2 separate regions of the Homo sapiens genome follow, and region 1 is linked to region 2. A link means that fine-mapping ties the variant in region 2 to the expression of a gene that starts in the linked region. Tissue or cell type: spinal cord. Region 2 holds a variant in brackets; the other region holds the start of a gene. All regions are shown on one strand. Distances are between the middles of the regions.

Evidence for each region. PIP is the estimated chance that this variant, and not a neighbour inherited with it, causes the effect.
Region 1: it holds the start of NTM, and the variant in region 2 is fine-mapped to the expression of NTM in spinal cord (GTEx, PIP above 0.99).

Annotation. Positions count from the first base shown.
Region 1 is chr11:131,368,181-131,372,424 of GRCh38, forward strand. NTM (neurotrimin) reads left to right here and starts at 2,435. Exons shown (of 9, transcript NM_001352005.2): 1 at 2,435-2,708. The coding sequence starts at 2,627.
Region 2 is chr11:131,276,954-131,281,197 of GRCh38, forward strand. No RefSeq gene overlaps it. Among named protein-coding and RNA genes, the nearest start is that of NTM, 92 kb to the right of the region's middle. The variant G/A (reference allele first, on the strand shown) is at 1,865.

The DNA of each region.
Region 1 (4,244 bases), 91 kb after region 2:
TTGGGACTAAAGACTTACCAGTGGCCCATGATCTTTATCATCGTTCTGGAGAGAAATGAAATGGTGGTGAAAGGAAGCCACCTTCCTTCTGCACTGCACTGTTATCACCTGCCGTCACAGTTGTTCCAAAGCATTTAATTACACATGTCACTATGCTGAGCACCGCACAAAAAGACTCATCTACAGATAAAATTCTTGTCCATTGGGAGCTCACGATATCAAGGACATTTTGATAGATATGTGAATTAGAACTTAATGGCAAGAAGAAAAAAAATACCAGTTAACATAAAACATCTTTAAAATGAGAAGGAGTATAATAAATTATTCCAGTTCTACAATTTTATAGACAAGAAGCCAAGGTTCACAGAGGTGAAAGGACCTGCCTGAGGTCCCTTAGTTGTGCAGAACTATGAGAAGGATCTTGAGGTCCCCAGATCTTGAGGTCCCAGGGCCCCTTCCTCTCAAGGTCACAAGATCCCACATTCCAGGCAGTGTTGTCCCTATTCATACACAACACAAGGTAAACTTGTGGGAGGCCAAGGCTGGAAGGACTGCTTGAGGCAAGGAGTTTGAAACCAGCCTGAGCAACATAGTGAGACTTCATCTCTACTATGTTGTAGAAAATTAAAAAAAAAAAAAAAATAGCTGGGCATAGTGGGTAAGGCAGGAGGGTTCCTTGAGCCCAGGAGTTCAAAGTTGCGGTGAGCTGTGATTGCACCACTGCACTCCAACCTGGGTGACGGGGCAAGAGTCTGTCAAAAACAAAAACAAAAAAGAAAGAAAAAAGAAAAAAGCCAAGGTAAATCGTACGTCTTAGACATGTGCAAAATGGCAGTGATGTTTTCATTTCACCTCTGTACACTAAAATACAAACAGACAATGAGTACTTTTCTTCTATGCAGTTTGAAAATACATGAACATTTTTATGGGGTTACAAGGAAGTATAATAATTAGCGGTGGAGTTCTAGAAGAATATTTTTAAAATGTGTGTCAAGGCATAGTAGGGGTATGAATGTGTCAGAATTAGCTAAGGAAGGTTCTGTGAGAAACTACATTTTCTTTTTCTTTTCTTTTTTTTTTTTTTTTTTCTTGAGACAGGGGCTGGCTCTGTCACCCAGACTGGATTGTAGTGGCGCCATCTTGGCTTACTGTGATCTCCGCCTCCCAGGCTCAAGCAATTCTCCTGCCTCAGCCACCCAAGTGGCTGGAACCACGGGTGCGCACCACCAAACCCAGATATTTTTAAGGAATTTTTTAGTAGAGATAGGGTTTCACCATGTTGCCCAGGCTGGTCTCGAATTCCTGAGCTCAGGCTACTGGCCTTCCTTGGCCTCCCAAAGTTGTGGGATTACAGGCGTGAGCCACAGTGCCCAGCCAGGAGCTACATTTTCTAGATTTTTTGTTCACATCCTCTAACTTGCTTCTCATAAGGGGAAGCCAAAGATTAGAATAAACTTCCAGGCCCTAGAATTAGACCTCTTAAGAAATCATTTATGTCCATTAGATTATTTCTGTTCGGTTTTTATTCTTTCCTATCACCAAGGAGGTTAATGTCTTCAACTGTCTGAGGAACTACACAAAGTTTACACTCAGAAAGCCCCTCCGCATGTCTACCCTGAATCTTTCTCGCTGCAGTTTAAATCACAGATGCTTCTATGATTGCTTTAGTGGATGTGGATTGACCAAGTCATGGGGAATAAACTCCTGCTTTGTTTTCTTTTGAAGAAGGTTCTCCATCTTCAGACTATAGAGCTTCTTCTCAAATACCAGGTACTTTGTACCTTTCCATTGTATCATATACACATGGATGAATTTAGGAAATTGACTTCTAAAAAGTGAATGAAAAAGAGGAGTAACATAGATGTTCTGAAACAGAAGTGACAGGAGGAGAAAATAGAAAGTTATTTACTATTTTCAAAGCAACTAAGTAGAAAGGTTGATGAAAGAGAGAAAAAAAAGCTGTCACTGAATGATATTTCCATTGGAGGGGAAAATAGGTACCAACAAATGAAAATTGCCTCATCTTTACAAGTTTCACTGAGCATGAAAATGTCCCTTTAAAATTTCCCATAAGCCATGGCTGGCTATGGGATTTTTCCAGTGCAAAGGGAATCTGAGTTCAGGAGGCCAGGGAATGCCAGGGGGAAAGGGATTTTCTGATACTCAGAAGACTCAGAGACTGTCAGTTTAAAAAATGAAAGTAATATAGAAGGGGCAAAGTGGCATTTATCATTCTATCTCTCCAGGCTCCTGTCTCTTTAATCAGCTAGCCTGATTTGCCCAGTAAATGATTCCTGAGAGTGTGTGTGCGTGTGTGTGTGTGTGTGTGCCCGCGCGCGTGTGTTGTAGCTCTGTCAATCCTTGGATTAGAACCAATGATTGCAGCTTGTAGGAGGGCTGTCCAGGGCCAGATTGTACAATGTGTCTCAGTGCCAGAGTATGAGTGGAGATAATTACGGAGAAGTCATACTCTCTCACACCCTCGGCTTTCTTGTTGTGTCCTTCAGCAAAACAGTGGATTTAAATCTCCTTGCACAAGCTTGAGAGCAACACAATCTATCAGGAAAGAAAGAAAGAAAAAAACCGAACCTGACAAAAAAGAAGAAAAAGAAGAAGAAAAAAAATCATGAAAACCATCCAGCCAAAAATGCACAATTCTATCTCTTGGGCAATCTTCACGGGGCTGGCTGCTCTGTGTCTCTTCCAAGGTAAGAGCTTGCTATTGATTTGCCTTCGGTAGACCCAGGAATTGTACAGTGTGCTTTATAAGATTTGCAGACTCCCCGAGTCGGCTGTGCTGCGCTGTTTGCAGGTGGAGGAGAGAGCGTTTAGACAGCATGGCTGGGACTTCATTCTCCCGACTAGGCTGTGAGAATATTGATTTGATTCTGGCTGCTACCGGAATGGGGGAATATGTATGTGCATAAGTAAAATGTGTTTGGTGCTCCTGTTAGGACTGTGCTTGTGTGCAAGGCTCCCTGGCTTCATGCACATTCTTGCACACATACACAACGGAGCACACATGTAAGCAGGGGGAAATGACAGATTCGGAGGGCAACAGGGTTGCTAATGTGTTGCTTATGCGACTGGGAAGAAATTACAAGAGGAAACTTTAAATATCGGCCAGCGAACTTGCAAAGCTTTTAAAAGGAGCAAAGGGGAAAATGCAGGCTAGAAAGAATCAGGTGCTTCCTGTGAGGTTCTGGTCAGCGATCCAGCTGCAAGGGATGAGTCAATTTGCAGCAGTGGGGGACAACTGTATTAGTTTTAAATGTGTTCGGGGGTGTGTTTGTGGCTGGGGTCGGAGGTGTGGAAGCGAGGGGAGCCGGGGCTCTGAAATTCTAAAAAGCTTTTCGAAGTTGAAGGGAGAGAGGCAATAAGAGTCGAATGCTAATTTTCTGTTTATTTATCGGCTGAGCCGGGAGCCCTGGGGGCTGCAGTTGAGTGCAAGCTTTGATGTCCCCAGTGCTGTGTTCTGTGCATTTGGAATCGGCCTCCACCTTGAGTCCATTTGCTGCACCGTGCCTCCCCACACCCCATCCCGGCTCTCACGTCTGTTCGTTCCAGCAACAGAATTATCCACTAATCTTCTTGCTCCCACCTGCCCTGTCCTTTGGGGTAACTAGTTTGCCTCTTTTATATTAAACACAGCTAAAACTCGTAAGGATCGAGACAAGCTGAGAAACTTTCCCAGGGTGGCCCAGCAGGGCTCCGGGAGGAGGAGCCCTCTCTTGGGAGGTGAGGCTCAGTCCTATGCAGTTGTATTCCCAGAGGAAAGTTCCCTCTGACCCGGTGAAAAACGATGGGGAGTCCCACCCCCTCGCCCTCTTCTCCCCCTGCAATATGGAGTTCTCCTGATCTGGACTGAGTCCTGAGCTGTAGTCCTGCTGGCTCTTCTCCGAGGTTAGGATTTAGGGATTGCTGCTGTCCTCTTGACATAGGTTGCAGTGGCTGCAGTGTGGATCCACGTAAGGTGGGCAGAGAGACCAGGCTGGAAGGATCAAATGTGTACACCCTTGACTGGGGCTCGATGAAGAAGGCAAGGGGTGGGGACAGGAGGGATCTGTGTCGGGTGATAAGGAAGTCCAAGGTGGTGAATCTTGCAGGGATGTCCATGATGTCGTCTGCTGCACCCAACCCCAGGAGGCATGGGCCTCAGGATTCCCTGCTGTCCCCTAGGGGCTTTGGTGGGTGTTTGAGTGAAGGGAATCAACTTGGAGGCATCCTCGATTGACTCCTCTTAT
Region 2 (4,244 bases):
TTCCTTTATGTGCAGGGGGCCTTTATACATTACCCAGTCTTGGGTATGTCTTCATTAGCAGCGTGAGAACAAACAAATACAGTGGGTAATGGTAGTAAATAACTAAGCATATGTAAACCAAGGGTTATTTATGCTGAAGGAAAATGAGTGCAGGTTTTTCATAAGAATGTGGTAAATACAAATTTTAGGTATAAACTCTTTCTTCTTCCCCCGACCCCAGAAGATCCAGTTTTCATGTGCCTATGACCCTTCTTGCCAAGATTTAGGCGTTAGCTTTCTGTAAGCACTGTCCTTGGGGGAGTTTAGATAAATACTGAAAAGTATAAATTTCTGTGTTATTAAATATATAATTTAATGTGCAGCAGAAACAATGGTCTTGAAAGTTTTTGATTTGCAAGTGCTGGGCTTCAGAGAGAAGAAAAGGCTCAGGGCATAAAATATGTGCCACACCAGCAGCTGGGTGGAAAATGCATGAGAGAGAAAAATTTAGGTTCCACACAACCAGAAGAGGTGACCCTTTCCAGTTGCAATGGTTTCCAGAGAGGTGTGGAAGTGAATATGAAGACAATGTCAAAGCTACGACATCAGGAAATAGGACCCCTCCCCTCCATCCCATCCTAGGATCAAGGGTGGGTGGAATATCCAAGAAGATAAGCTTAATATGAGGACGACAGAGAGGCTTCTACCTTCCTTCCCAGCTGCAGGTGTACTTGGGCAGGGGCTGCCTTAGCTGCAGGTTAGTCTGCATTGAGAGAGGTGCTAGACAGATGGGCCCAGGGGCAGCTTCACAGCATACAGGCAGCATGGTCCAGTGCCAAAAGAGCAACTGGGAGGTCCTGAGCCTGCAGCAAGGCACTAAGGGATGAGAGAGTAGGTAGAACTGGAGTAGCCTGTGCCTAAAACAGAGAGGATGCACAGTGTTTGCTCCTGGATCTCACAGAACATTCTGGAATGGTGGATATCAACAAAAGACACTAGGGGAAAATGACAAGGACCAGAGGAGGCAAGTACATCCCAAAGGTAACTGACAAATGTGGAGGGCAGGAAGGAGCCAGGTAGCAACCCCTGCAATAGTCCTGGATGGTAATATGCCTCCCCTCTTCCCCATCCTGTTTTGTTCTGACCACCGTCAGGATTGGGGGGTTGCATCCGAATGTGTGCTAGATGACAGCTCTAAGGTGATGTGTTAACAACAAGAGCTATAATCACTTAATTTATAGGGAAACTGTAGGGGGAAATTGGAAAACTGGACAATGGACAGAACTTTTAAATAATTAACGTGAAGACAGACTATACATACACACACGCGCACACACACACATACCACTCACACATATTCAGTCACTGAGGCAATTTCTGCTTATAGTGGAGAAACCAATGACATCAGTGACCAGGCTAAACCTATGCATTTTGTGGGTGAATTTAAATTTCAAGTGAGTGCAGAGTGTTTTGGATTATCTCCGCCAAGTTGCTGCCTAGCATGGCATGCCATTCATGTGCCTAGATCAATATAAATATGGATACCCCTATATGAACTAGGCAGGGAAAGTGGGACAATTTGACAGCCCCTTGCTGAGACACAGCGGCTTCCATCCCTGGGAAGGGCCTGAATAGCCCAGTGCAGCCCTGATGGACTATAAGCAAGAAAACAGCAGCCCGGAAAATGCAGATGCTTTGGAGATGCTGGCTTGACAGACTGAAGCCTGTTTGTCAAACAGGCTGTCACCTATCAGAGTTTTAAATAGGAGCTTTCTATGGGATGTTACGTAACTTGCTGGCTCACAACAGCCCCAGTGGAATGGAACGGGGGGCAGGGGGGGTGGGGGGCAGCGCCAATGAGAAGCAGCTGCGGGATAGAGGACAA[G/A]GCCCTGCTATTCTTTTCCTTAATGGATTCCCTGCCTCCTGCATTGCCATACTTGAACACACAACATGGGAATGGAGGTGCCTGCTCTTTAAGGGCTGTGTCAGTCAAGCAAGGGACATTACATGTGGCAAAGTTGGAAAGAGAGCAGGGTAGAAAGATATAGGTTCTCTGTGGTGGCTGGTCCCTTGGGCTAGTGCCCTGGGCGATGCGGGGTGCTCACCCCAGCGCTGCCCCTGGTCTACCAGGCCGGCATCGCCCTCCTACATACCATGTCCCAACTGAAGGCTGATGGTTGAACTCGGTTCTCCCCCTTTGGGAAGGGACGTAGGTTCAGTTCCACAGAGGGTGTGAGATGAGATGTTCATATGTTTGAAATCATGTAATGGTGTGTGTGTGTTTTTTTTTTAATGTTCTCTGGACATAATATTGCTGCTTTGGTTTGTCTTCTCTTCCAAGGAGGACCTAGTTCTTTTTTTCTTTTTTTGGGAGATGGAGTCTTACTCTGTTGCCCAGGCTGGAGTGCAGCAGTGCGATCTTGGCTCACTGCGAGCTCCGCCTCCCAGGTTCACACCATTCTCCTGCCTCATCCTCCCGAGTAGCTGGGACTACAGGCGCCCGCCACCACGCCTGGCTAATTTTTGTATTTTTAGTAGAGACGGGGTTTCACCCTGTCAGCCAGGATGGTCTCGATCTCTTGACCTCGTGATCCGCCCGTCTGAGCCTCCCAAAGTGCTGGGATTACAGGCGTGAGCCACCGTGCCAGGCCTAGGACCTAGTTCTTTACTGCCCCTTCAGTCAAGTTGAATCCAGTGAGAGAATCATCAGTCACAACTTACCCTATGTCAAGGTGTAGTCCTGAGAATCTATTAGTAAAGTAAGTTTGGAGATGAGTTTTATTTTAGAGGCCCTAGGGGAGTTGGCTATTTTAAAGACTCCTGATGTAAGAGCGAATAATTCTATTGTGATGGGATGAATCACTCTCTACTTTCTGATTTATCTGTTTTATAAGTTTGGAATTTTGCATATTAAGTTGTTCTTCCCTTATGTGTATTAGCCACATACTGCTGAGTCATCAAAGGGCCTGAAGCAGAAAGGAAGACTTTGGATGTAAGTTTTCACATAATCAAATTTTATGTAACCAAAAAGAAGAGCCCTGTTAATAGGTAAAGGGGCTGTACTAAAGTGACTGGAATTTTCATACATTTGTAGCAGTCACCCTGTGTTATATTGGGGTGACAGCATTCTCTGACATGGAAAGTTGAAGATGGTATACATAAGCTGTTGTTGAAAATTCATACGGATTGGTTATTGAGGCTGTCATAATTGAGTTGCAGTGTGGTGGCAGCTATGCCAGTGGAATAGCAGCAGTGCCTGGCAACACCCAGTTGTAGTGTACTATTTACAAAAACACAGTGATAACTTTCCTTGGTTAATCCCCTCCCACACTGACTCTGGGTCTGCCCATGCAATTTCTGATGGCTGATAAGACAATAGCAAATCGGGCATACCCAACAGCCTGAACATTTCTCATGTTTTGTGGTTTGCCCTTTTTGGCTGCTCTGGTGGATCCTGGGAACACCACCATGAGAAGGAGCTCAGGCTAACCTGTGGATAATGTGAGACATAGGAACAAGTCACCTTTATTGCCCCAGCAGACTTCCCCAACCACCAAATGAGGGAAGGCATCCTAGAACACATGGCCTCGTTTGAGCCACCAGCCGGTCACAGTGATCAACCAAGCCATTCCAGACAAACTGCCCAAAACTGTCCAGGCACCCTACCAGCATTCATGAAAAATAAGAAATGTTTGTTGTTCAAAGCCACAGGTTGGGGGCAATTTGTTAGGCAGCAAAAGCTAACTGATACACAAGTTAAGATCAGTAAGTTGTAGTATTTTGTTGGGGAGAGGAGAATTGTTAGGATGACTTGAAGTTGATCCTGCTTGGATACCAAAGCCATGTAACCCAGCAATAACTTCATTATATAATAGGGAATTTAAATACTAAAGAATTAATTTAGAAAAACTTACAGGGATTATGGTTAAATTAGACAGAGTTTTATTAAATAGTTAACCTAGTCACGTATATAAATGATTGAAATATTTATAATACAGGTGTGATGCTATCTCACAAAGGGATTAGCAGATTCCTGCAGCTATGGACAACTACAGGCAAAGTCTCAGAGTTGGTCCTATCTTGTACAGGTTTCTCCTGGGGCTTCATATTTGTCCCTGCAGCCTGGTCATCATCTTAGTGATAATAATGTCTCTAGAGAATGTTGGCTACCAGTGCTCTGTAATATCCCTCTTAACTAATTAAAGTCAAATTTATGTTGTTTCAGCCATTTTCTTTTAAAAGCTGCCGCTGCTACTGTTATGCTG